Linked DNA regions of Homo sapiens. The protein of the gene in region 2 purifies or fractionates together with the protein of the main gene of each other region. This does not show direct contact. Each region holds a gene or a part of one and is shown on either strand. Other genes may lie near its edges.

Region 1 (3,500 bases), on a different chromosome or scaffold from region 2:
TACCAGCACTTTGGGAGGCTGAGGCCGAAGGATCCCTTGAGCCCAGGAGTTCAAGACTAGCCTGGGCAACAAATTGAGACCTTGTCTCTAATAAAAATTTTAAGAATTAGTTGGGGCCGGGCATGGTGGCTCATGCTTGTTATCCCAGCACTTTGGGCACTCAGGGCGGATCACCTGAGGTCAGGAGTTTGAGACCAGCCTGGCCAACATGGTGAAACCCCGCCTCTACTAAAAATACAAAAATTAGCCAGGCGTGGTGTGGCACGCGCCTGTAATCCCAACTACTCAGGAGGCTGAGGCAGGAGAATCACTTGAACCTGGGAGGTGGAGGTTGTAGTGAGCCAAGATCATGCCATTGCACTCCAGCCTGGGCGACAGAGCAAGACTCCATCTCAAAAAAAAAAAAAAAAAATTAGTCAGGTGTGGTGGCATGCGCCTATAGTCCCAGCTACTTGGGAGGCCTAGGCAGGAGGATCGCTTGAGCCTGGGAAGTCAAGGCTGCAGTGTGCCGTGATTGTGCCACTGCCCTCCATCTTGCGTGAGAGGGTGAGACCCTGTCTCAACAACAACAACAACAAAACAAACCTGACAAACATGCTAAGCTAGTTCACATTTCTTGTATCTAACAAGGGTTTTTTACCCTGATCTTTTCATGGCCCTCTTTCCCATCATTCAAGTCTCAGCTTAAATGTCAACTAAAACTTCTTCCCTGAGCCATCTATCTCTTGTTATACCCCTACCCATCATATCACTGTTTTATTTTCTTCATTAGCATTCATTACTATTTAAAATCCTTTCCGCTACACTAGAATTTAAGCTTTATGAAGTAGGAGACTTTGTTTTCTTTTTTTTTTTGTTTTTTGTTTTGTTTTGTTTTTGAGACGGAGTCTCACTCTGTCACCCAGGCTGGAGTGCAGTGGCATGATCTCGGCTCACTGCAAGCTCTGCCTCCCGGGTTCACGCCATTCTCCTGCCTCAGCCTCCCGAGTAGGTGGGACTACAGGCGCCCACCACCACGCCCGGCTAATTTTTTTGTATTTTTAGTGGAGACGGGGTTTCACCCTGTTAGCCAGGATGGTCTTGATCTCCTGACCTCTTGATCTGCCCGCCTCAGCCTCCCAAAGTGCTGGGATTATAGGCGTGAGCCACCACGCCCAGCATGAGACTTTGTTTTCTTTACTGCTTTGTCTCCGTTACCTACAACAATTTCTGGCACCTTGTAGGTGCTCGGTGAATATTTGTTGAAAGAATGAATGAAATCCAGGATGCTGTACAGAGAAAATAGCCTTCCTTTGGGATTGTTTTCTTAGGGCTGTAAGTGTTTTTTTTATTTTTTATTTTTTGGTGTGTGACAGGGTTTTGCCCTGTCACCCAGACTGGGGTGCAGTGGCACAATCTCGGCTTACTGCAGCCTCTGCCTCCCGGGCTCAAGCAGTCCTTCCACCTCAGCCTCCTGGGTAGCGTGTACCACCATGCGTGGCTAATTTTTTATATTTTTAGTAGAGATGGGTTTTTGCCATATTGCCCAGGTTGGTCTCGAACTCCTGGACAAGCGATCCACCCACCTCAGCCTCCCAAAGTGCTGAGATTACAGGCATGAGCCACCACACCCAGTCAAGACATAGGTATTTCTTTCTTTTTTTTTTTTTTTGAAACGGATCACGCTCTGCTGCCAGGCTGGAGTGCAGTGGTATGATCTTGGCTCACTGCAACCTCCGCCTCCTGGGTTCAAGTGATTCTCCTGCGTCAGCCTCCTGAGTAGCTGGGACTACAGGCACGTGCCACCATGCCTGGCTAATTTTTGTATTTTTAGTAGAGATGGGGTTTCACCGTGTTGGCCAGGATGGTCTCAATCTCCTGACCTCATGATCTGCCCGCTTTGGCCTCCAAAAGTGCTAGGATTACACGGTGAGCCACCATGCCCAGCCCAAGACATAGGTATTTCTGTGTGATAGCCATGATGTACTGATACAGAACAATCAGTCATTTCTCAGGTGATTGTGAGATAAAATGGGTTGTCCTCACCTTTTGAAAGTGCTTCTTGTTCATTTTTCTTTTCTCATCTTTATACAATCTTTCTTAAGGATATATGGCAGGGAATGGCATGAGAAAGGGGCTTGTAAGCTAAAGCTTAAGGAACCATTCGAGCTGAACCATTTGGGGATAAAATAAGTTGCGAGAAATGTATCCCAAGTCTTTGGGATGATGATGAGGTGGTTGCAGATTCAGGCTTGCTGCAGTTTTAGCTCCTGGCTGAACTAGAGTTCATAGCCCAAAGAAGAGTTGACAGTGTGGGAGTGGTGTTCGGTGTCTCCCAGGTAGGAGGGAGACAGAAAAAATTCCTGCTGAAACCTTTCACAAAACTGGGTTATGCAGATGACCAAGGTTGTGAAAATCTGAATAGGGAATGTCAATCAGGACTTCTGCAACCTCTAGTTTTGGGTATTTAAAATATATATCTTTGAAATAATTATAGTTTCACAGGAAGTTAAAAAATGTGTATAGAGGTTCTGTGTACCCTTCACCAAGTTCTTCCCATTGCATAATTAGAGGTACATTTCTTTTAATCTGAGTAAAAGTGTGTTTCTCCACTTAAATTCAGGTTTTCCTTGTGGTGCTAATTATAACGTAATCCAGATCTCAAAGTTAAACTTTTTTCTCCATTGAGCTTTCTTTATGAGCTCAAGAAAATTTATCTCTCTCAGACGTATGAGTGCTAACTGATCCTAGTGGGTTGGCAGACCTAATAAACTTCAAAGTAAGCAATATAGGATGTTTCTAGAAATAGTTGGTACACTGTTCATACACTAACACTTCTTTTAATACTCTTTTGTAGTCTAATTACAAAAACATGGTATATTCACTGTACATATTTAGAAATGAATATATAAAAAGGAATCGACCAGGCACTGTGGCTCACGCCTGTAATCTCAGCCTTTTAGAGGCTGAGGCAGGAGGATTGCTTGAGGTCAGGAATTTAAGACCAGCCTGGGCAGCATAGTGAGACCCTGTCTATAAAAAAAATAAATTAGCTAGGCAAGGCAGGAGGATGGCTTGAGCCCAGGAAGTTGAAGCTGCAGTGACCTATGATTGCACCACTGCACTCCAGCCTGGGTGACAGAGTGAGACTCTGAAAGGAATTACAGGGAGACAATATAGTGAGTAACGATGGCCTGTGGAGCCAGACTGCCTGCAACTCTGCCACTACCTGTCTGCCCTCAGACAAGTTCCTTTATATACCTGAGCTCCACCGTTCTCATCTGTACGGTAGACATACTAATATATCCACCTCATAGGGTTGTTTTGAGGGTAATTGAATTATATATAAGCAGTTTAGAGCAGTGCCTAGTACATTGTAAGTACTCTTCCTACTCATTACAGATGGCAGGAGAGCTGGCTGACAAAAAGGACCGTGATGCATCACCTTCCAAGGAGGAAAGGAAGCGATCACGGACTCCTGACAGAGAGCGGGATAGAGACCGGGACCGGAAGTCTTCCCC
Region 2 (3,500 bases):
TCCAGGACTTTGGGAGACCGAGGTGGGTGGATCATTTGAGGTTAAGACTTTGAGACCAGCCTGGCCAACATGGCAAAACTCTATCTCTACTAAAAATACAAAAATTAGCCAGCTGTGGTGATGTACACCTGTAATCTCACCTACTCAGGAGACTGAGGCAGGTAAGTTGCATGAACCCAGGAGGCAGAGGTTGCAGTGAGCTGAAATTACACCACTGTACTCCAGCCAGGGTGACAGAGCAAGACTCTGTCTAAAAAAGCCAAAAAAAAAACAAAAACAAAAACAAAAACAAAAACCCTGGAGTGCAGTGGATAGTTGGGAAGTTGGTAAAAGATAAAATAACCCCAGGAAGAGGATTAGATTAGGGGTGTGCTCTGGGATTGTGATGGGTCTCCTCAGCTTTAAATTTGTAGCTGTTTTCTGGCTCTGCCTGTTCAAGAGTCTTACCCTCTTCATGTAATCCTGTAGCATTCCAGTTTTTATGGCAAACAGCAATAATTGTGTCCCTGGGCCTTCAAGGTTATATAAAACGTAGAAATTGTTAAAATAGAATTGTGAGCAAGTTTTAAAAAATTATATGTGTGAGAGACAGGAGTCCTAAAAGTAGGGCCTCACCAACTCTGAATGCATCATTCGGGAGAAGCAGACCAGGCAGGAGTTCCCTAGAGGGTCCTGTCTCAGAGGAATACAGCTTCACAGGACCAGAGGAAGCACAGATTTCCTGTCAAGCCCTGACTGAACCTCCCTTCTAGAAATAATTTCAGGAGAGCCTCCTACTGAGAGATATTATGCAAAGGTTCCCTCGAGGCCCTTTTGTTCCCAGTGGCTTCAATCCATCAGCCAAGTAGATCTTGTTGCTAATATCTCACTGTTTCTCAGATAATTTGCATTATATAACTCACTTTTTTTGTTTTTACATCATTGAATTCACCAGACTGATAGCCACACTATCTTATGTGGTTGTGAGGATTTCATGAGATGATTCATGCAAAAATTTTAGAACAGAGCCAGGAATATTATACTCAACAATTGTTCACTCCTATTATTATAGAGGAGCTACTACCTGTGCTATTTCTGAGAAATCATAGCTACATGCCCAAATAAAGAATTTTAGGAATGTAGTGTCTGTATGTGCCCTTAAGAAGTATAACTTGGAGAGAATATACAATTGAAGAAACCTTAATTGAAAATAGGGCTATATTAATACCGTCTTCTTCCAGTGTAGCTATTCTGGTATAATTGGTCCTGGTCCTGGACTTAGGCTTTTAAATTTGTTATTATTGAGAAATAATTCACTTACTATAACATTTACCATTTTAAAATGTACAATTCAGTAGTCCTTAGTATAGTCACAAGGTTGTGCAACCATTACTGCTAATTCCAGAACATTTTCATTATCCCAAAAAAGAAACTGCATACTCTCTTAGCAGTCACTCCTATTCCTGTCTTACTCTCCCAGGCCCTGGCAACCACTAATCTACTTTCTGGCTCTGTGAATTTGCATATTCTGGACATCTCATATAAATGGAGTCATATAATATATGCCCTTCTGTGTCTGCTTTTTAAATTTAGTGTAATGTTGTCAGGGTTCATCCATGTTGTAGCATGTATCAGTGTTCCATTCCTTTTTATAACTGAGGAATATTCCGTTGTGTAGATATACCACATTTTGCTTATCCATTTATCAGTTGATGGACATTTGGGTTGTGTTCCTTCTTGGCTATTATTAGAAGTGCTGCTATGAATATTTGTTCATACAAGCTTTTATATGAACATTGGGTATATACCTTGAAGTGGAATTCTCTTGAGTATATACATAGGTGTGGAATTTTGGAGTCCTATGAATTCTGTTTAACTTTGTTAAGAACTGACAAACTGTTTTCTGCAGTGACTGCAACATTTTTATATTCCTGCTAGCAATGTATAAAGGTTCCAATTTCTCCACATCCTCACCAACGCTTACTATTTTTCTTTTTTTTTTTTTTAATTGCCCTCCTAGTGGGTGTGAAGTGGTATCTCATTGTGGTTTTGATTTGCATTTCCCTAATGACTAATGATGCTGAACATGTTTTTATGTGCTCTCTGGCCATTAGTATATTTTCTTTTCAGAAATGTCTCTTCAAATCCTTTGCCCATTTTAAAATTGAGCTCCTACTTTTTAAAACCATAAAATAATAATATGGTTAATATAGTATTTAGCAAAATAGTCACTATTTTCTGGTCCTGGTTCAGTCTTGTGTAGCAGTTAGGCCCTAGTAGGACAGTTAGATGAAGATTAAATTTTTTAGTTACTGTATCAGTTAGGGTTGCCAGAGAAACTGAATCAAGAGGGTGTATATGTAGAGATGAGAAAGAGGGAGAGAAAGAAATTTATATTATGGAATTGGCTTATGTGATTATGGGAGCTGGTAAGTCTGAAATCCATAGAGCAGGCCAGCAGCTGGAAACTCAGGTAAAAGTTGATGATGTGGTCTTGAGTTTGAAATCTGTAGGGTGGGCTGCAACCTGGAAATCCAGGCAGAATTTCGATGTTGCAGTCTTGAGGAGAATTCCTCCTCTAAGAAACCTCTGTTTTTGCTTGTAAGGCTTTGAACAGATTGGAGGGGGCCCAGCCACTCATTATTGAGGGTAACCTCCCTTAAAGTTAACGGATTGTAGATATTAATCACACCTACAAAATACCTTCACCACACCATCTGGGCTAGTGTTTGACCAAACAACTGGGCACCATAGTCTAGCCAAGTTGTCATAAAATTATCACAGTTACTTTAAATGATCATATTCACATATTTTCAGAAAAATGGGACTAATGATGGAGACTATGTTTTTCTAACTGGAGAAGACAGTTACCTTAACTTTACAAAAATTGTGGAATGGAATGGGAAAACGTAAGTCAAATGATTTATCAGTGGAATTATTTTTTCAGTTTTCATTTAAACTACATGTCTACTTCTACATTGCTTAAAAATGTGTTTAGCCTTTTTTGGATGAAAAATATAAAAACATGTAAATAGTCTTGTAATTATTATTCTACAAATCAAGATGGTGGTAAAACATCTTACAGATTAAATATTAGTGATTTGTAGATTTATCATGGCCAGGCATGAATTACAGGCCAGTGAAAAGTCCCACTCTTGCTTAGTAGTCATTGAGTGATGTGTAGTAGCTACAGCACAAATACTTTTCAAACCACCACATGTTTTGGGCTATTTGGCCATTGCCTCTATGAAAGCTGATTTGGGCCAGGGACCTACTTTTTCTCCCCCTTGATCTAATTAAAACTGTTGTGTCTGTGTATGAATAAGATACTGTGGATAGACAGCTCCAGTTAAATCTTGCAAAGTCCTGACCATTTAAGAGAATCTAAACTCAAATGTGATCATCTTTACTCTTTCTTGTGCTTATCAATTATAGGTCACTTGACTGGTGGATAACAGACAAGTGCAATATGATTAATGGAACAGATGGAGATTCTTTTCACCCACTAATAACCAAAGATG
Region 3 (3,500 bases), on a different chromosome or scaffold from region 2:
GAAAAATTAATATGAAAGAAATCTGACTAAATGAAAAGTTAACTGCCTCAGAATTTTTATTGATGTGTTTCATAAAAGGCAGTAAGAATTGTCTTTTTTACAGTTACTCATATGTTTAATGATTCTTTGGAAGGTCTTAATTACAGAGCACGGTGACCTGGGTAATAGCAGATTTTTAGATCCAAGAAACAAAATTTCCTTTAAATTTGACCACTTACGGAAAGAAGCAAGTGACCCCCAGCCAGAAGAAGCAGATGGAGGTCTGAAGTCTTGGAGAGAATCCTGTGACAGTGCTTTAAGAGCCTATGTGAAAGACCATTATTCCAACGGCTTCTGTACTGTTAAGTATCTGACTGCTTCGTTATCAGAGAGTGTTTTCTTATATTTACCTTATCCTTTGGAGGCTTTGGCCTACCAAACATCCCTACTTTCTTCTTAGCCATGCTCTCTTCTCCTCTGCATTTTATTCCCTAAATCATTTTGGAAAGGGGTATAAATGAAATTTTTATATGGAAAATTTCTTTTTAAAATCCCAATGCACAAAAAATTTAGGTATCAGTGTATTCTGTTTTCACATTTGACTTATGAAAAATGCCTTACACCCATCAGAAAAAGGTCTTTGGTTTTTCTTTTTTTCTTTCTTTTTTTTAAATTAACCTTTTAAATTAATTTTTTTTTGTTTGTATTTTTACCCAGATCTAAAAGGTCTTTGGTTTGGACATGGAGAAAAAAATGGTATACTAAGATTGTTGAGAGAGCTTTTGCTCATATTTATGGCTTTTTGATATAGGCATTTTTACACAAACTACTTCTACATAGTTTAGATGTTTATATTCAGTAATCAAAACTATTAGAACTAAACAATTGGCTGGACATGGTGGCTCATGCCTGTAATCCCAGCACTTTGGGAGGCCAAGGTGGGCAGATCACTTGAGGCCAGGAGTTCGAGACCAGCCTGGCCAACATGGTGAAACCTTTACTTAAAAAATACAAAAAGTAGCTGGATGTGGTGGTGCACACCTGTAGTTTCAGCTACTCAGGAGGCTGAGGCACAAGAATCACTTGAACCAGGGAGGTGGAGGTTGCAGTGAGCTGAGACCACACCACTGCATTCCAGCCTGGGCAACAGAGTGAGACACTGTCTCAAAAAAACAAAAAACAAAAAAAACCAAACAATTTTTTTTTAATCAGGAGTGATTTTCTTTTTGTTGTTGTTTTTGCTGTTGTTGTTGTTGTTCTTTTGTTTTTTGAGACTAAGTCTTACTCTGTCACCCAGGCTAGAATGCAGGGGCACCGTGTCAGCTCAATGTCACCTCCATCTCCTGGGTTCAAGCAATTCTCCTGCCTCAGCTTCCTGAGTAGCTGGGATTACGGGTGCCCACCACCACACCTGGCTAATTTTTATATTTTTAGTAGAGACAGAGCTTCACCATGTTGGCCAGGCTGGTCTCGAACTCCTAACATCAGGTGATCCAGCTGCCTCGGACTCCCAAAGTGCTGGGATTACAGGCGTGAGCTGCTGCACCTGGCCTAATTTTCTTTTACTCCCTCTTGACTGTAAAAATAGATAAATTTGGCTTTATTATTTTTCCTTTATAAAATTATGGCATATTAAGAAAAATATTGATTAGAATATTTTTTATTTTTAAATTGACAAAAATATGATATGTACAACATGATATTTTGAAATATGTATACATTGTGGAATGGCTATATTGAGCTAATAACATGGATTTCTATACATATTTATCATTTTTTTGTTGTGGGAAAATCAGCAATTTTCACTAGAATATTTTAAATATACAATGATGATGAATTACATGGCAGTCTAGAATACAGTTAAGAGCACCTACTTTGAAGCCTTACTAACTGGTTTGATTCCTGGCCCTGCCAATTAATTAGTTGTGTGACCTTAGGTAAATTACTTAACATCTCTGTGCCTCAATTCTTTGACTGTAAAATGGAAATAATTGTTTTTATCTCATAGAGTTGTTGTGAAGATTTAATGAATTAGTAATATATGTAATATATGCCTGGAACAGTGCCTGGCACAAAGTAAGCTCTACATAAATGTTAGATGAATGTTAGGCTAGGTGTCATTATGTTTGATTTTTTTTTTTTTTTTTTTTTTTTTTAATGAGAATACCCATTATGGTGGACTGGACAAGTATAGAATTCCTGTTGGGAAGCCAGTATTGCAAAGGGGAGACATGATAGACTCCCATTTAGAAATTGACTGTTTAATCCTAAATATACTTTGAATTTATTGTTTGTTACCTGTTCAAAGTTTGTCACTACCCATTCTTAATTTGGAGAGCTCCAGCACCAAATAACCCTACTGTGTCCTTAGCTATCAAATGACCTACAGAAAGTCATGGAATTGTTGTGATGGTGTCTGCTGTATATAAGTATCCTATGTCTTATGTCTTCAGCTGACCTGCTTAGTAGTCCGTAATTTCATCTCCTTATTCCCTATCACATTTTCTACATAGTATGTTCCAAACATTTTTCATTGTCCTCTGACAGGCATCTAATCCCCCATGTTTTGTAAGGATTGAAACTGACAGAAATTTTTTTTTTTTTTTTTTGAGACAGAGTCTCACTCTGTCTTCCAAGCTGGAGTGCAATGGTGTGGTCTCGGCTCACTGCAACCTCCCCTTCCTGGGTTCAAGCGATTCTCCTGCCTCAGCCTCCTGAGTAGCTGGAATTACAGGCGCCTGCCACCACACCTGGCTAATTTTTGTATTTTTAGTAGAGACGGGGTTTCACTGTGTTGGCCAGGCTGGTCTTGAACTCCTGACCTTGTAATCCGTTCGCCTCAGCTTCCCAAGTAGCTAGGACCACAGGTGCACACCACCATACCTATCTAATTTTTCTCTGTGTGTGTTGTGTGTGTGTAGGGACTACAAGGCATGAGCCACCAGGCCCGGCCTATTTCTCCTTCTTTGTCTGCCCTTTCCACCTTGCCCTTTCTCCCTCTTCTCCACTTTTTCCCTTCTCTCATCTCTCTCTGCATCACCACCACGTCAGTACATATTCTTTGCCTGCTAATGCCATTTCCTCTATCTACTTCTGAACCCTTTAATTTTTTACTTTAGTCTCCATTCTACAGAAACTGCTCTGAGTTTACTAATGGTTCCTGAGTTACCTGGTCCAGTGTCCTTTTCCTTGTCCATGACTTCCGAATGGCATTTCACACTGAAGCCAATCAACCACTTCTAGAAATTATCTTTTACTTAGGCTGCTGTCAGCAACCCCTAATTCTTTTTTTTTTTTAGAGATGGAGTTTTGCTCTTTTTGCCCAGGCTGGCGTACAGTGGCATGATCTCAGCTCACTGCAACCTCCGCCTCTCAGGTTCAAGCGATTTTCCTGCCTCAGCCTCTCTAGTAGTTGGGATTACAGGTGCCCACCACCACACCTGGCTAATTTTTGTATTTTTAGTAGAGATGGGGTTTCACCATGTTGGCCGGGCTGGTCTTGAACTCCTGACCTCAGGTAA
Region 4 (3,500 bases), on a different chromosome or scaffold from region 2:
ATCATGATGCTGCTGAGAGCGCCTTTCTGCCCACCTGCTCCCAGGGGGCCCTTCTGTCCTGCTGTGGGTCCTCACAGTGGCCCGGGGGCCCTCTTTGCACAACAAGCGGAGTTCAAGATCTTGGAGGGCTTTGGAGGCAGGAGCCTTGCACTCCATCCAGATCTTGGGGACTGCAGGTGGCATGAGGGCTGGAGTGCTTCTTGGGTGTGAGACGGGCCAGGTGACAGTGAGGACACAGCCAGCCCTCACCAAGGCCCAGTGCGCCCCATGCCCCTGGACACGTGGCAGTGGGTGGACCCCCATCCTCACCTGCCTTGAGGCCCCCTGTGCACAGACCCTCCCTGGGCCTTGCCGGCAGTTGGTGAGCCACCAGGTCAGTAGAGGTCCCTCAAGGGGCTGTTGGCCTGGTGGGGAAGGTGACACATGCTGGAGGCTCAAAGGAGCTGGGAGTCTGAGTGTGAGGGAGGGGAATGGGGGTCATGGTAGGGCAGGTTCAGCTCCAGGTGCCTCCACCGCCCTGCAGGGCCTGGGCTGCCCAGAACCCCGGGGTGCTGCCAGGAACGCGTGCAGTCCTGGAGATCCATGGGTTGCCAAGCAGTGGAAAAATTGGGGCTCTCGGAGGAGCTAAAAATACAGTGTGGCAGCCCCTGCCTCCTAGTTCCGGAATCCTCTCCTGCCGTTCTGCCCACCCACCCCGTGGAAGACAAGCTCCCTCCCTGCACCCCCACCACCAACGCTGGCTCAGGGCCCAGAAGCACCCAGCCCTGTGCCAGTGCCAGAAGGGCGACACCACAGCTGCCTGCCCACTCCCAGGCAGCAGCCCCCCACAGGTGCTCATGTGCCCAGCCAGTGCCTGCCCTACCCCCGCCACTGCTTCAGGGTCCCCAGAGCCCCTTGGTCCCAGGCACAGTAGGCAGTACCTGCCACCCCAGGGCTGCCAGGCTCAGGGCTTGGCCTGTTCCTCGTGGGGAGCCTGGACCCAGGCAGACCTCTCCCTTCCCTACCAGTGGGGACTTCACAGGGGAGGGGGCTGTCCCAGGCAGACTCAGAACATGTCACAGCGGGGGCCTCCAGGCCCATTGGTGCTGGCCGAGGGCATAGGAGCTCCCACACTGTGCTGTGGAAGGCCCTCCTCGCCTGGCTCCTGGGAGGCAAGTGAGGGAGCCGAGGCCTGGGGGCTTCAGTGGCTGGCTCAGGTCCCTCGCGTGCTGGGATTCAAGTCTGGGTACCCTAACCCTGGCCTGTGTGCCGCTCAGAACCATGGGCCCATGCAGGAGCCCCCAGCTACTCTCCACAGCTCGGTGCTGGGCCTGCCTCAGGAGCCCACACTCCCTGGCTCTGGTTTTCTGTCTGCACCGCAGGGGCTAGGCACATGGCTGCAGGTCTAGTGAAGGCCAGCATGGCCCTGTCCCCACCCACACCACACACTCAGCTTGACTGTTGACTGCTAGGCGGGGCGGTGGCCCGGTGGCTTCCCGAGAGTCAGTGCAGCTGCCCTAGCATGTAGGCATTCGGATGGAGGTGCTGGCATCACCACACCAGGCTGGCCAGGCCCAGGCCCAGAGGGGGACCCTGCCTGCCAGAGCTAGAGTCAGGGGAGAGGCATGGCCCCGTCCTCTGGAAGCCCCAGGCTATTGGTTGACAAAAGCAAGTGCTGAAGAACCATGGTGATGTCCCACTAGCATGGGTGGGGTGAGCCCCTCAGACCTCAGAGTCTTCATCTGCAAAAGACCCTGCCCTGTGCAGTTCCATTGGTGCTGGTGGACTGCCGGGGGGGGTGGATGGGACGCCCCTTCTTGGTGCCCTGACCCTTTTGCTGTCCAAGGCATGGGGTCTGGCCTGAGCCATGGGTACTGGGCCCTGCAGAGCCTGGATGGTCCTGCCCTGCCTCAGCCAGAGCTGGTGCCGGCTGTAGAAAAGATTGCGAAGAACGCAAATTCCTGTGCCTGTGGGGAGGTGGCCACGCCCTACAGCCGGGGCTGGGGAGCTCTGAGGACACATTCCTGCGCTGGTGGCCCCGCCAACCCACTTTCCAGATGGAGAGCAGAGGGGAAGGGTAGCCTGCCCAGGGGCACACAGCTCAGCAATGAGACTCCCGCCCCCTTCCCTTCTCAGTTGGCACTGGCACCTTCCAGCGTATTGTTCCCCATAGCCCCGTGCCCCTGAGATCAGTAAACTGTGGATTCCTTCTGGAATCCTTGCAGAAGTGGACACCACCCCCCAGTGAGAACAGGCAAGGCTGTTTTTGCAGAGCTCGCTGTAGCAGGGAGTCGGCCACCGCCACCCGCGTTTAGCAGAGACTCACAGGCGGGCGGGGGAGTGGGAAGCCTCATGGTTTTCTCATATGGATAATTCACTCTATACATAGAAAGCTTTTTATAGACACAGGGAAGGCTCGGGGATGCCCTGAGAGAGGCTGCTGGCTGGAATTTGGGCTCCTATGAGATGAGACAAAAATCACAGAAGCTGTCAGTTATTACCCAGGTCCCAGCCATTTGGGGCCAGTGGCCAGATTGCGGGTCAGAGTGCTGCATATATGGTCTGGCCGTGGTGTGTTTGCAGGTTCAGCCTCATGCTGAAAAGCAGTTGGAACATTCTCCGGTGTAGAGCCTGACGGGGGGCCTGGGTGAGATCGGGCAGCCTTGGCAGCACCACAGAAGGAGGAGAGCAGCTCCGGCCTCAGCCTCCGGGGCCTCAGCCGGAGCCCTGTCTATGCCGGGCCGCAGCCCAGCGAGACCCTGTTACACTCACTGCCCCCAGACAGCACCCGGTGGGACACGGCCAGCTGGGGCAGCTCAGACACAGAGCCAGGCACCCAGGCACGGGGGTATAGGAACCTGATGGGCAGGAGGGCCAGTTTCCTCCCACCGTGGCTCCACCCCACTGACCAAGGGGGATCCTCTTGACTGGGGTCTTTCAGGGGCTTGCACAGGGCAAGGAGCGCTGGGCAGTGCCAAGAGGGGCAGTACTCAGGTCAGGGAGCATCTTCTGTGTCCAGGGACACCCTGGGGCCTGGGGCACGGTGGCTCTCGGCGGCACTGCTTGTCTCTAAAAGGTCAGGATTTTTTGCATGGAGGGACCCCCGGGGCTCTTGGCTGGAGAGGACACTCTGGATGCCAGGGGCCGGGCCTGGGAGAGTTCATAACTCCGTCCACTCAGCCTGTGCCAAGGGGACAGGGACTCCGGCCAATGGAGGCGGGGGAGGAAAGGAGGGTCAGTTCTGGGGCCTCTTTAGGCAGCAACAGCCAAGGCGGGTGGGAATATATGCAGAGGCCCGGCTGCCTGGCTCTTCATGGTGGTGGGAGCAACCCTACTGCCACCAGGAGGGGCGTTGGGGACCTGAGGCTGCCTGGGAGGGACCCGGCTGTCTCTGGCAGCTCAGCGGTCAGCAGCGATGAGAAGCCAGGGGAGCGTGAGGAGCAGCCCAGGACAGGGCCCAGAGTGGGTGGGCAGAGGTGGCCGGAAGGTCTTGCGCATCTGGGTGAGTGGACGGCCACTGG
Region 5 (2,403 bases), on a different chromosome or scaffold from region 2:
CCTCGCCCGAAATGCCAGCCCACCTCCCTCCTCCAGAGGCCCCTGGGCTGGCCCTTCTGATGTCCTCAGGCACTTCCTGCCTGTGCCCGGTGCCTGCACCTGTGCTGCCAGGAGCAATGGCATGCGCACGAGTCCGTACCCAGGGTACAACCTTGAACACTAAGGAAGCCGGTCTCGGGGCATTGACTCTGGAGATGTGGAAGCAGGGGGATAGCAGAGGCGAGACCAATCTGGGTACAGGGCCCAGGTGCCAGCAATGTCTCTTGCTCCCCCAACCCCTGACACAGGAACTTCCTGTACCTCAGACCTAGCCTCCATGAGACAGGGGGCAAGGGAGGGACAGGATGCTGCAGACATCCCCCCAACCCCCTGCGCACCTTCACGTTCATGAGGAGCTCCCAGAAGTTGCGAGGGGGCAGCACAATGGTGGTGTTGAGTTCGATGACATAGCACTTGTCCAGGGAGATATCATGGTACGCAGTCAGACCCTGGCAGGAGAAGGGGTTGGGTCAGTCTCTGCAGGAGGTGACAGCTGACCCAGGCAGGGCTGCAAGAAGCTTTGGCCAGCCAGGCGCGGTGGCTCATGCCTGTAATCCCAGCACTTTGGGAGGCTGAGGCGGGCGGATCAAAGGTCAGGAGATCGAGACCATCCTGACTAACATGGTGAAACCCCGTCTCTACTAAAAATACAAAAAATTTGCCAGGCGTGGTGGTGGGCACCTGTAGTCCCAGCTACTCGGGGGGCTGAGGCGGGAGAATGGTGTGAACCCAGGAGGCGGAGCTTGCAGTGAGCCGAGATCGTGCCACTGCACTCCAGCCTGGGCGACAGAGCGAGACTCTGTCTCCAAAAAAAAAAGCAGCTTGGCCAGCAGGGGCAGGAGTCCCACCATGCCTTCCTGGGACCCTGGGCCTTCAGGAGCAGAGTCCTCTCCAGACTCCTCAATACCTGGGCGGGCACTCCCTTTTCCTGGTCTTCTCTTAGCCTGTTGTAGAAGGTGCCACATGATAGAGGAAAATAGCAGCTGATTGCTAAACGCCTCTGTTGTTATAAAGCTTCTTCTCATGTTTACAGAGCTGAGGTTTGGGGAACATGGTAACATCCCAGCTGTGCATTTATGAAACCTGTGAGGGCCAGCCATTCCTGGGACAGCCTGGACCCCAGCGAGAGATGCCCTGTCTCAGGACCCATGGGGGTTACATGAATACGCATGAGACCCACTCTGCAGAGACCCGCTGAGCTGTACACGCAATGCACTCGATGGTGAATGTACTACCCCTCGATACAACGCACTGGCCCTGCCATGACAGCCAGCGTGCAGCTGGCAGGAGGCTGAGGAGAAAATCAGCCTCGGCTGCTTCATACTCAGCAAGAACCATTGTTGCTAACAGGAGAAAAGCAGTGTCTTGAAGACCCTGGTAAGCCTAACCGTAGACACCTGCTGTACTCCGAGGAGTCTCCTTTCATCCCTGCTCCCCTTGCCCTGAGTCCCCGGGACACCCTCCCACCCCCCACCCCCAGGCCCTGGCCAGCCTCACCCGCTGGAAGTCATGGATGATGTCTGCAGGGTCACCGCCGCCAAACTGGGGCACAGGCACGTTGATGCGCTCGTAGTTCTCGTCGAGGTAGATTTTCACATCCTCTTCCAGCTCCATCTGAGTCCGGACCTGGGAGGACAGGGAGTCCTCATACAGCACACCACAGCGGAAGAAGTTATCTCGGGCCAGCTGAGCAAGGCGGAGAGACAGACAGACAGTCAGAGAGGCTGGTCATACACGCACTCCGTAAGGCCCCCTCTTGCCTACCCGTCCGCTACATGCCCCAAAAGCCTGCGGAAGCAAGAAGAGCAGGGACTGTGAGACCCATTTCGCAGATGGAGAAACTGAGACGGTGGGGCATCAGGTCAGGGTCTGGGGCTGCCAGTGAGGAGATGAGCTGATTCTTGGGCAAGGCGCTTCCCAGCTTCACAAACGGAAGGGAGGATGAGCTGGGTCTGCCAGGTTCTAGGTGGCAGACCTCTCTGGGCCTCAGTTTCCCCATCAGTAAAGCATGATGATCCCTAAGGTCCCTTCTGGCCTCCAAGTCCTTGAGTCGGTGACTGGGAAAAGGGGTGGCCCAGCAGGACTAGGACCTGGCCACCTCCGTGCCCTCCACAGAGGTGCAGACACCAGAGAAAGAGCCTGGGGTTGGCAGGGGGTCAAGGACGAACCTAAGAGTTGGGCACCTACGCCTGTGCACGACTGCCTTTCCTGTCACCTGCTGTCCTGGCCTGCAGACCTGGAGGGGCCTAACACGGCGGGTGGGGAGGTGGAGCTGGAGGCAACACTGTTAAGAGTCTTGTGCCCCTATCACGGTTACCTCCACATCCAGCCTCGGACAAGTGCCATCGCCCTTCCTGGATATCC
Region 6 (3,500 bases), on a different chromosome or scaffold from region 2:
AAGCAACATTTACACAAGATGGACATTACATTATTAGTGCATCCTCTGATGGCACTGTAAAGGTTAAGTATTTGCTATCAGTTTATTTTGGGATGTCTACCCCATCTTTGTCCTTTGAGGAGTTTTCAGTGGTGATAATGGGAATGATTGTGCTGTAGTAAACCTCTTTCCTGGCTATTTTAGCTGTAATTGAGGTGAGTCTGAGACAACAACAGTATTCTGTGGGTAATTCCCATTGGCCTTGGGACCCCAATCTCAAACCTTTTCAATCCAAACAAACTTTATCATGTGTAGGAAAAGAGGAAGGGTGAAGAGTCCTAAACTTAAGCCATCCCCCATTCACAGATACACATGGTGGTTAAATCTGTTTTGCCATAGGTATGGTCCACCTGCTAACAGTCAAATTCACGAAAGTCTCAGTGGCCTAATAAATAGATCTCTTTTTTGTTGCACAGCCTCACTGCACTCCTGGTCCCCAGATTTAGGGCCTTCCTAGTAGCATTTATAGAGGAATAGGAGAGGTGTTGAGTAAAACTAAGCCTTCTCCTAGATAGTTATTTAATAAGTAATTTGCTGAAAGTAATGGATCTTCAGTACCTTTAAAGATTTAGTTATTTGAAGAGAGGTTCTCATTTCCTAGAAAAGATATGAGAAACCCAAATAGAAAATTATTAGAGATCTTTGAGACACTATTTACATTCCGGACCTAATCTTTTTGAATTGTCTTATATGAGTGAGTACTTTGTGGCAGAAGATCTAGACATTTTAATAAAACATTTTAATACAAATATCTAGATATTTTAGATACATATTTAAGTATCTAAAATTCAGACAGCCAGGGGTGGTGGCGTATACCTGTATTCCTAGCTACTTGGGAGGCTGAGGTGAAAGGATCACTCGAACCCAGGAGTTTGAGGCTGCATTGAGCAATTTTCTCACCACTGTACTTCAGCCTGGGCAACAGAGCAAGAACCTGTCTCAGTCAATCAATAAATGTATGTATATATATATATGTATATATGTCAGACCACCGTCTGAAATTGCTGTTCATGATTGGAAATCGAACTGGAAACCCGAAGGCAGGAGATGTATGCTCCCTTGGGATGTATGGGGAAATCACACAGAGCTGTTAGTACTTCAGTCATGGGATTTGCTCTCATGCTATGCATATGGGCCTCACAACTTGTAAATGCCACTGGAAGATGGCTTATCTAAGGTTCCTTATTTTGTGGTCTTTCCCCCTTAGTTCTGCAGTGAGTGGGGCAAAGCGTGTCACTGACCTTTTGAATGGAAAACACTGGAAGCCTTAGCGTTCTTAATTCCTGAAATGTTCATTTTTTCTTCTAAGCAACTGGGCTTCAGAGGAGATTAGGGCAGGCAATAACAGTGTTGACACCAGGGCAACTGTTTTCTCCTGTTTATGGGTATTTATTCAACATCTGCTTTCTGCTAAGCTCCATGGAAGGCACAGAGGAAACACAGCAGAGTCCATGCCTTAGAGACTTTGTACCTGATGAATTGAGTGGTATCAGGACAATGCTATTTAATGTTTGATCCATCCCTTCTCTAAGCACATCTCAGATTTCTGTGCTACCTGATTTAACCCTTTCAGTTCATAGAACCCAGAAGGATAAGGTGAAAAGATAGACCGGGAAAAGTAATGCAAGTGGCCAAGAGTAGCTTCCACTTCAAAGTTCCTCATGTGTGTGTGCTAACATTGTGACTTCTGTTCAGTCATTGTCAGTATAAACTGTACATTGGAATCATTTGTAGCTTTTTAAAAAATGCCTATGCCTCACCCTAGACCTACCACATCAAAATCTCAGGATAGAGTCTCAAGCTAAAAAGCCTCTATTTGAGCCAGGCTTATTGGCACCTGCCTGTAGTCCCGTACTCAGAAGGCTGAAGTGAGAGGATCGCTTGAACTCAGGAGTTTAACGCCAGCAGAGGCAATAGGGCAAAATAGCGAGATCTCATCTCTTTAAAAAAAAAAAAAAAGAAAAGAAAAGCGGTTTTTGTTTTGTTTGTTTGTATTTTATTTTAATTATTTTACATAGAGACAAGATCGCACTATATTGCCCAGGCTGGTCTTGAACTCCTGGCCTCAAGTGATCCACCCGCCTTGGCTTCCCAAAGTGCTGACATTACAGGCGTGAGCCACCATGGCCGACCCCCTGTTTGGTTTTGATATCCAGACAAGGGTAGCTTTCTGGTTGTTTATGACAGTAGCAGTGTTGACAAACAACTAATTTTAAAGAGAGAGAGCTCTATTGGCTAAGGAAAAATGTATGAGAAAAGATCATAGATTTTTAAAAGTTTTTAAGTTTTAGTTTGTGACTTTGGCTTTGCCAATAAATCAACAAATACATGATGAATGCTTACTCTATTACAGTTGGTCCTCTGTATCCGGAACATGGATTCAACCAATCACAAATTGAAAATATTTGGGGAAAAAAAAGAAAATTCCACAAAATTCTAAAAAGCAAAACTTAAATCTGCCCCATGCCAAGTACTACATTGAATCCTTACAAAGGAAGTGGTGTGCGGGCATTGTATTAGATATTATAAGTAATCTAGAGATGATTTAAAGCATACAGGAGGATGTGCATAGGTTATATGCAAATACATCATTTTATGTGTGGGACTTGAGTATCCTTGGATTTTGGTATCTAAAGGGGATCCTGGAACCAATTCCTCACAGATACCGAAGGAAAACTGTATATGGCAGTGCTGGGTATTTGATTGGACCTAAAATCAAGTAAGAAACTTTTTTCCCCTGAATCATTTCTATTCTTTTTTAGTAAACTGTTAATATTTTAAACCCTAAAACTTTAGAAATTTTTATACCTAAAAAAGGTTTATAACTTAAATTTCTGTGTGGTAGATCTGGAATATGAAGACCACAGAATGTTCAAATACCTTTAAATCCCTGGGCAGCACCGCAGGGACAGATATTACCGTCAACAGTGTGATTCTACTTCCTAAAAACCCTGAGCACTTTGTGGTGTGCAACAGATCAAACACGGTGGTCATCATGAACATGCAGGGGCAGGTGAGTGTTCAGAACGTACCCTTGCACAGGAACTGTGGGCCATTCCCAAATCAGCACTTCCTGGTCCAGGCCCACCCTCCCAATAACCAAATTTGGGTTCATTTCTCTGTAAACCGTTTAAGCTGTATTTGTTTTTCAGATTTATTTATAGCTCCATAAAACATCTGTTTGGTATTTCAAAAGTGATCTCCTTTCCCCTGGATGTTTGTATATTAAGCACTTTCATCCTTCGGATAAAGGAAGCTCCTATCTGTCTTTAAGCCTCCTTCAGAACCTCACTGAAGATTTTAAGATAACAGTGTTTGTCTGAGTTAGGGGGATACAGTGTAGTATGGATTACCAACTCAGGACATCTCCCAGCTACCACGATCTAAAGTGGAACACTAATAGGAGAAAGGCAGCAGCAGTGTCCTCGGTGTATTTTTAATCAGAAAACCTGCAAGGTTCT
Region 7 (3,072 bases), on a different chromosome or scaffold from region 2:
GCAGATCCTGCAGCAGCTTGTGGTCCTGGCAGCTGAAGCCCTGCCCATGTTAGAGAAGCAGCTCATGGATCCCCGGGGACCTGGGGACATCAGGGTAAGCTTCTGACCAGCAGTGACTCCAGGGCCTCTGGGGATTCTGTCTTTGGAAGTTCAGCGTTCAGGGATCTCACAGGAGACCCGGTCCCCTTGTTTGGTGAGACTGAACAGAGGAGGTGTTGAAGCTGCTGTGGTGCCTGGGGTGGCAGAGCCTGGGGAACCTGGGTTCCATCTGGGTCTCCTGTTTCTAGCCTGTGCTCCTTCTGCCGGGCTATGCAACAGCTGTTTGCTCTGTGGGTCTTGGTGCTTCAGTCTTCAAATGGGCAGGTGGGCCCATAGAGGGTGGTCAGATGGAAGGAGGAAACCAAGGTGGGCGTGTGGAGAGGTTTGTGGTCCAGTTCCTCAGTCAAGGGGGTCCTGCTGACCCCTCCTTCTCCCCTTCCTTAGACAGTGTTCCGGCCGCCCTTGGACATTTACGACGTGCTGATTCGCCTGTCTCCTCGCCATATCCCGCGGCACCGCCAGGCTGTGGACTCGCCAGCTGCCTCCTTCTGCCGGGGCCTGCTCAGCCAGCCGGGGCCCTCATCCCTGATGCCCGTGCTGGGCTATGATCCTCCTCAGCTCTATCTGACGCAGCTCAGGGTTGGTCCTAAACAGCTGAATGACCTGGGGAGGGGACTTCCAGGTGAAGCTGAGGCTGTGGAGGAGCTCTTAAATGCCTGCCTATAATCTTCTCTGTTCTGTCCCTTTCTAGGAGGCCTTTGGGGATCTGGCCCTTTTCTTCTATGACCAGCATGGTGGAGAGGTGATTGGTGTCCTCTGGAAGCCCACCAGCTTCCAGCCGCAGCCCTTCAAGGTGTGCTGGCTGGTGACAGCTGTGTTCCTGAGTGTGTGCACGTGGTTCTGTGTGGGCATGCATGTCTGTGTGTAGTCTGTCCTATGGGCAAACCCGTGTCAGGTGCGGAGTGTATGGGCTTGTGTTTCTATCCCCACCACCCCCACTCTGTACCCAGCTTGGTGTCTCTGGGTGTGCCGCTGTGACACTCAACCCACATCTCTTCTCTGATTTCCCCAGGCCTCCAGCACAAAGGGGCGCATGGTGATGTCTCGAGGTGGGGAGCTAGTAATGGTGCCCAATGTTGAAGCAATCCTGGAGGACTTTGCTGTGCTGGGTGAAGGCCTGGTGCAGACTGTGGAGGCCCGAAGTGAGAGGTGGACTGTGTGATCCCAGCTCTGGAGCAAGCTGTAGACGGACAGCAGGACATTGGACCTCTAGAGCAAGATGTCAGTAGGATGACCTCCACCCTCCTTGGACATGAATCCTCCATGGAGGGCCTGCTGGCTGAACATGCTGAATCATCTCCAACAAAACCCAGCCCCAACTTTCTCTCTGATGCTCCAGCATTGGGGCAGGGGCATGGTGGCCCATGTAGTCTCCTGGGCCTCACCATCCCAGAAGAGGAGTGGGAGCCAGCTCAGAGAAGGAACTGAACCCAGGAGATCCATCCACCTATTAGCCCTGGGCCTGGACCTCCCTGCGATTTCCCACTCCTTTCTTAGTCTTCTTCCAGAAACAGAGAAGGGGATGTGTGCCTGGGAGAGGCTCTGTCTCCTTCCTGCTGCCAGGACCTGTGCCTAGACTTAGCATGCCCTTCACTGCAGTGTCAGGCCTTTAGATGGGACCCAGCGAAAATGTGGCCCTTCTGAGTCACATCACCGACACTGAGCAGTGGAAAGGGGCTATATGTGTATGAATAGACCACATTGAAGGAGCACAATGCCCTCCTGTGTTGATGCCACTTCCCAGGGTGGAGACAGTGGAAAAGAACCGAGGACAGGAAAGGATTGGGTAGGTGAAGGGGTCAGGGGACTGGTAGTCACCCAATCTTGGAGAGGTGCAAAAAGCACTGGGGGCTACCCGTTAGCTGCATCTGCCCTGGCTGTTTGCCCGTTCATGTCACAAACTGCCACTACTATGTACCTGCAGTGGGGTTGCAGAGATGGGGGAGACTCAAGTCTTACTCCCCAGGAGCTCCCAGGGCCCAAGGAGGAGAATGCTGCCTCCTTTCAGTCTGGTCTACACCCACTTTCTGGTAGCCTCTCTGCTTCCTGTAATTCTGGCTGTTTTTCCAGACTCAGCTCAAATAGTGCCCCTCCTTAAGCCCATCCCTCGCCCCCAGCCTGAGGTGATCTTTCCCTCCTCTGAACTATTAGAGCAGTTACTGTCTGTTCAGTTCGTTTGGCAGGCACACACAGTGGCATAAATTCTATTGTTTTGAACTCTGATTTAAAATTAAATTGCAGCTGGGCGTGGTGGCTTATGCTTGTAATCCCAACACTTAGGGAGTCAGGAGAATCACTTGAGCTCAGGAGTTCTAGACCAATCTGGGCAACAGAGAGACCCCATCTCTTTTAAATAAAAAGTTAAATTGCTTAATTTCCCCCGTATTCCTGGCCTGTCTGCCCCTTTCACATAATTTTAACCTGGTTTCTTGTATGTAAACTCCTTGAGGGCAAGAACATGTTTGAACATAGACTTCTTCGTGTCCTTCCTAGCACCTATTACAGTGCTTTGCTCAGGGGCCATCCAGCACAGGCAGATGGGGGGCAGAGAAGCCCACTGGAAGATTGCAGAGTAAAGGGAATCCATTTGTGAAATCTGCCTGCAAGAAGTGGGTGGTGACGGTGAAAGAGAAAGCCTAAGAGATTATAGAGTTGACGTTTATTGAGGGCTTAATAGGTGCCAGGCGGGGTTAGGTGGTGGTATCCGTATCTTATGTGCGGAAACTTGTCGTACAGTCATAACGAGCCGTATGGAGTAGGTACTTTCATTTACCTTCATTTTCTGAGTGAGAGAACAGGCTCAGCGCAGGGGCCCGTTGTGTGAGGAACTTTGATGCCTGGCTAGCAAGCTCCATCCTCAAGATGAGAAGCTGCATGTGGGAACTCTGGCCTCCAGTTCTGTCTCAACTGTTGGTCTTTGTGAATCACTGCTTGCCTCTACTGTCACTGCCATGGAGCAGCTCAGCCCAGGGT

The links.
Region 1: the proteins of SCARB2 (region 2) and DDX23 purify together in Homo sapiens (affinity purification with mass spectrometry; one large-scale study listed by BioGRID and IntAct). This does not show direct contact.
Region 3: the proteins of SCARB2 (region 2) and CAPZA1 purify together in Homo sapiens (affinity purification with mass spectrometry; one large-scale study listed by BioGRID and IntAct). This does not show direct contact.
Region 4: the proteins of SCARB2 (region 2) and INF2 purify together in Homo sapiens (affinity purification with mass spectrometry; one large-scale study listed by BioGRID and IntAct). This does not show direct contact.
Region 5: the proteins of SCARB2 (region 2) and ITM2C purify together in Homo sapiens (co-immunoprecipitation; one large-scale study listed by IntAct). This does not show direct contact.
Region 6: the proteins of SCARB2 (region 2) and SMU1 purify together in Homo sapiens (affinity purification with mass spectrometry; one large-scale study listed by BioGRID and IntAct). This does not show direct contact.
Region 7: the proteins of SCARB2 (region 2) and NOL6 purify together in Homo sapiens (affinity purification with mass spectrometry; one large-scale study listed by BioGRID and IntAct). This does not show direct contact.

The regions. Positions count from the first base shown.
Region 1 is NC_000012.12:48,845,664-48,849,163, reverse strand, and holds part of DDX23 (probable ATP-dependent RNA helicase DDX23), read left to right. Parts: intron 1-3,381; coding exon 3,382-3,500. UniProt on the Homo sapiens protein: Involved in pre-mRNA splicing and its phosphorylated form (by SRPK2) is required for spliceosomal B complex formation.
Region 2 is NC_000004.12:76,175,825-76,179,324, reverse strand, and holds part of SCARB2 (lysosome membrane protein 2), read left to right. Parts: intron 1-2,796; coding exon 2,797-2,888; intron 2,889-3,414; coding exon 3,415-3,500.
Region 3 is NC_000001.11:112,654,332-112,657,831, forward strand, and holds part of CAPZA1 (F-actin-capping protein subunit alpha-1), read left to right. Parts: intron 1-133; coding exon 134-340; intron 341-3,500. UniProt on the Homo sapiens protein: F-actin-capping proteins bind in a Ca(2+)-independent manner to the fast growing ends of actin filaments (barbed end) thereby blocking the exchange of subunits at these ends.
Region 4 is NC_000014.9:104,696,118-104,699,617, forward strand, and holds part of INF2 (inverted formin-2), read left to right. Parts: intron 1-3,500.
Region 5 is NC_000002.12:230,874,942-230,877,344, reverse strand, and holds part of ITM2C (integral membrane protein 2C), read right to left. Parts: intron 1,726-2,403; coding exon 1,537-1,725; intron 489-1,536; coding exon 378-488; intron 1-377. UniProt on the Homo sapiens protein: Negative regulator of amyloid-beta peptide production. May inhibit the processing of APP by blocking its access to alpha- and beta-secretase.
Region 6 is NC_000009.12:33,052,675-33,056,174, reverse strand, and holds part of SMU1 (WD40 repeat-containing protein SMU1), read left to right. Parts: coding exon 1-62; intron 63-2,884; coding exon 2,885-3,052; intron 3,053-3,500. UniProt on the Homo sapiens protein: Involved in pre-mRNA splicing as a component of the spliceosome. Regulates alternative splicing of the HSPG2 pre-mRNA. Required for normal accumulation of IK.
Region 7 is NC_000009.12:33,460,853-33,463,924, reverse strand, and holds the end of NOL6 (nucleolar protein 6), read left to right. Parts: intron 1-4; coding exon 5-94; intron 95-483; coding exon 484-678; intron 679-790; coding exon 791-892; intron 893-1,111; coding exon 1,112-1,261; 3' UTR 1,262-2,572; downstream 2,573-3,072. UniProt on the Homo sapiens protein: Part of the small subunit (SSU) processome, first precursor of the small eukaryotic ribosomal subunit.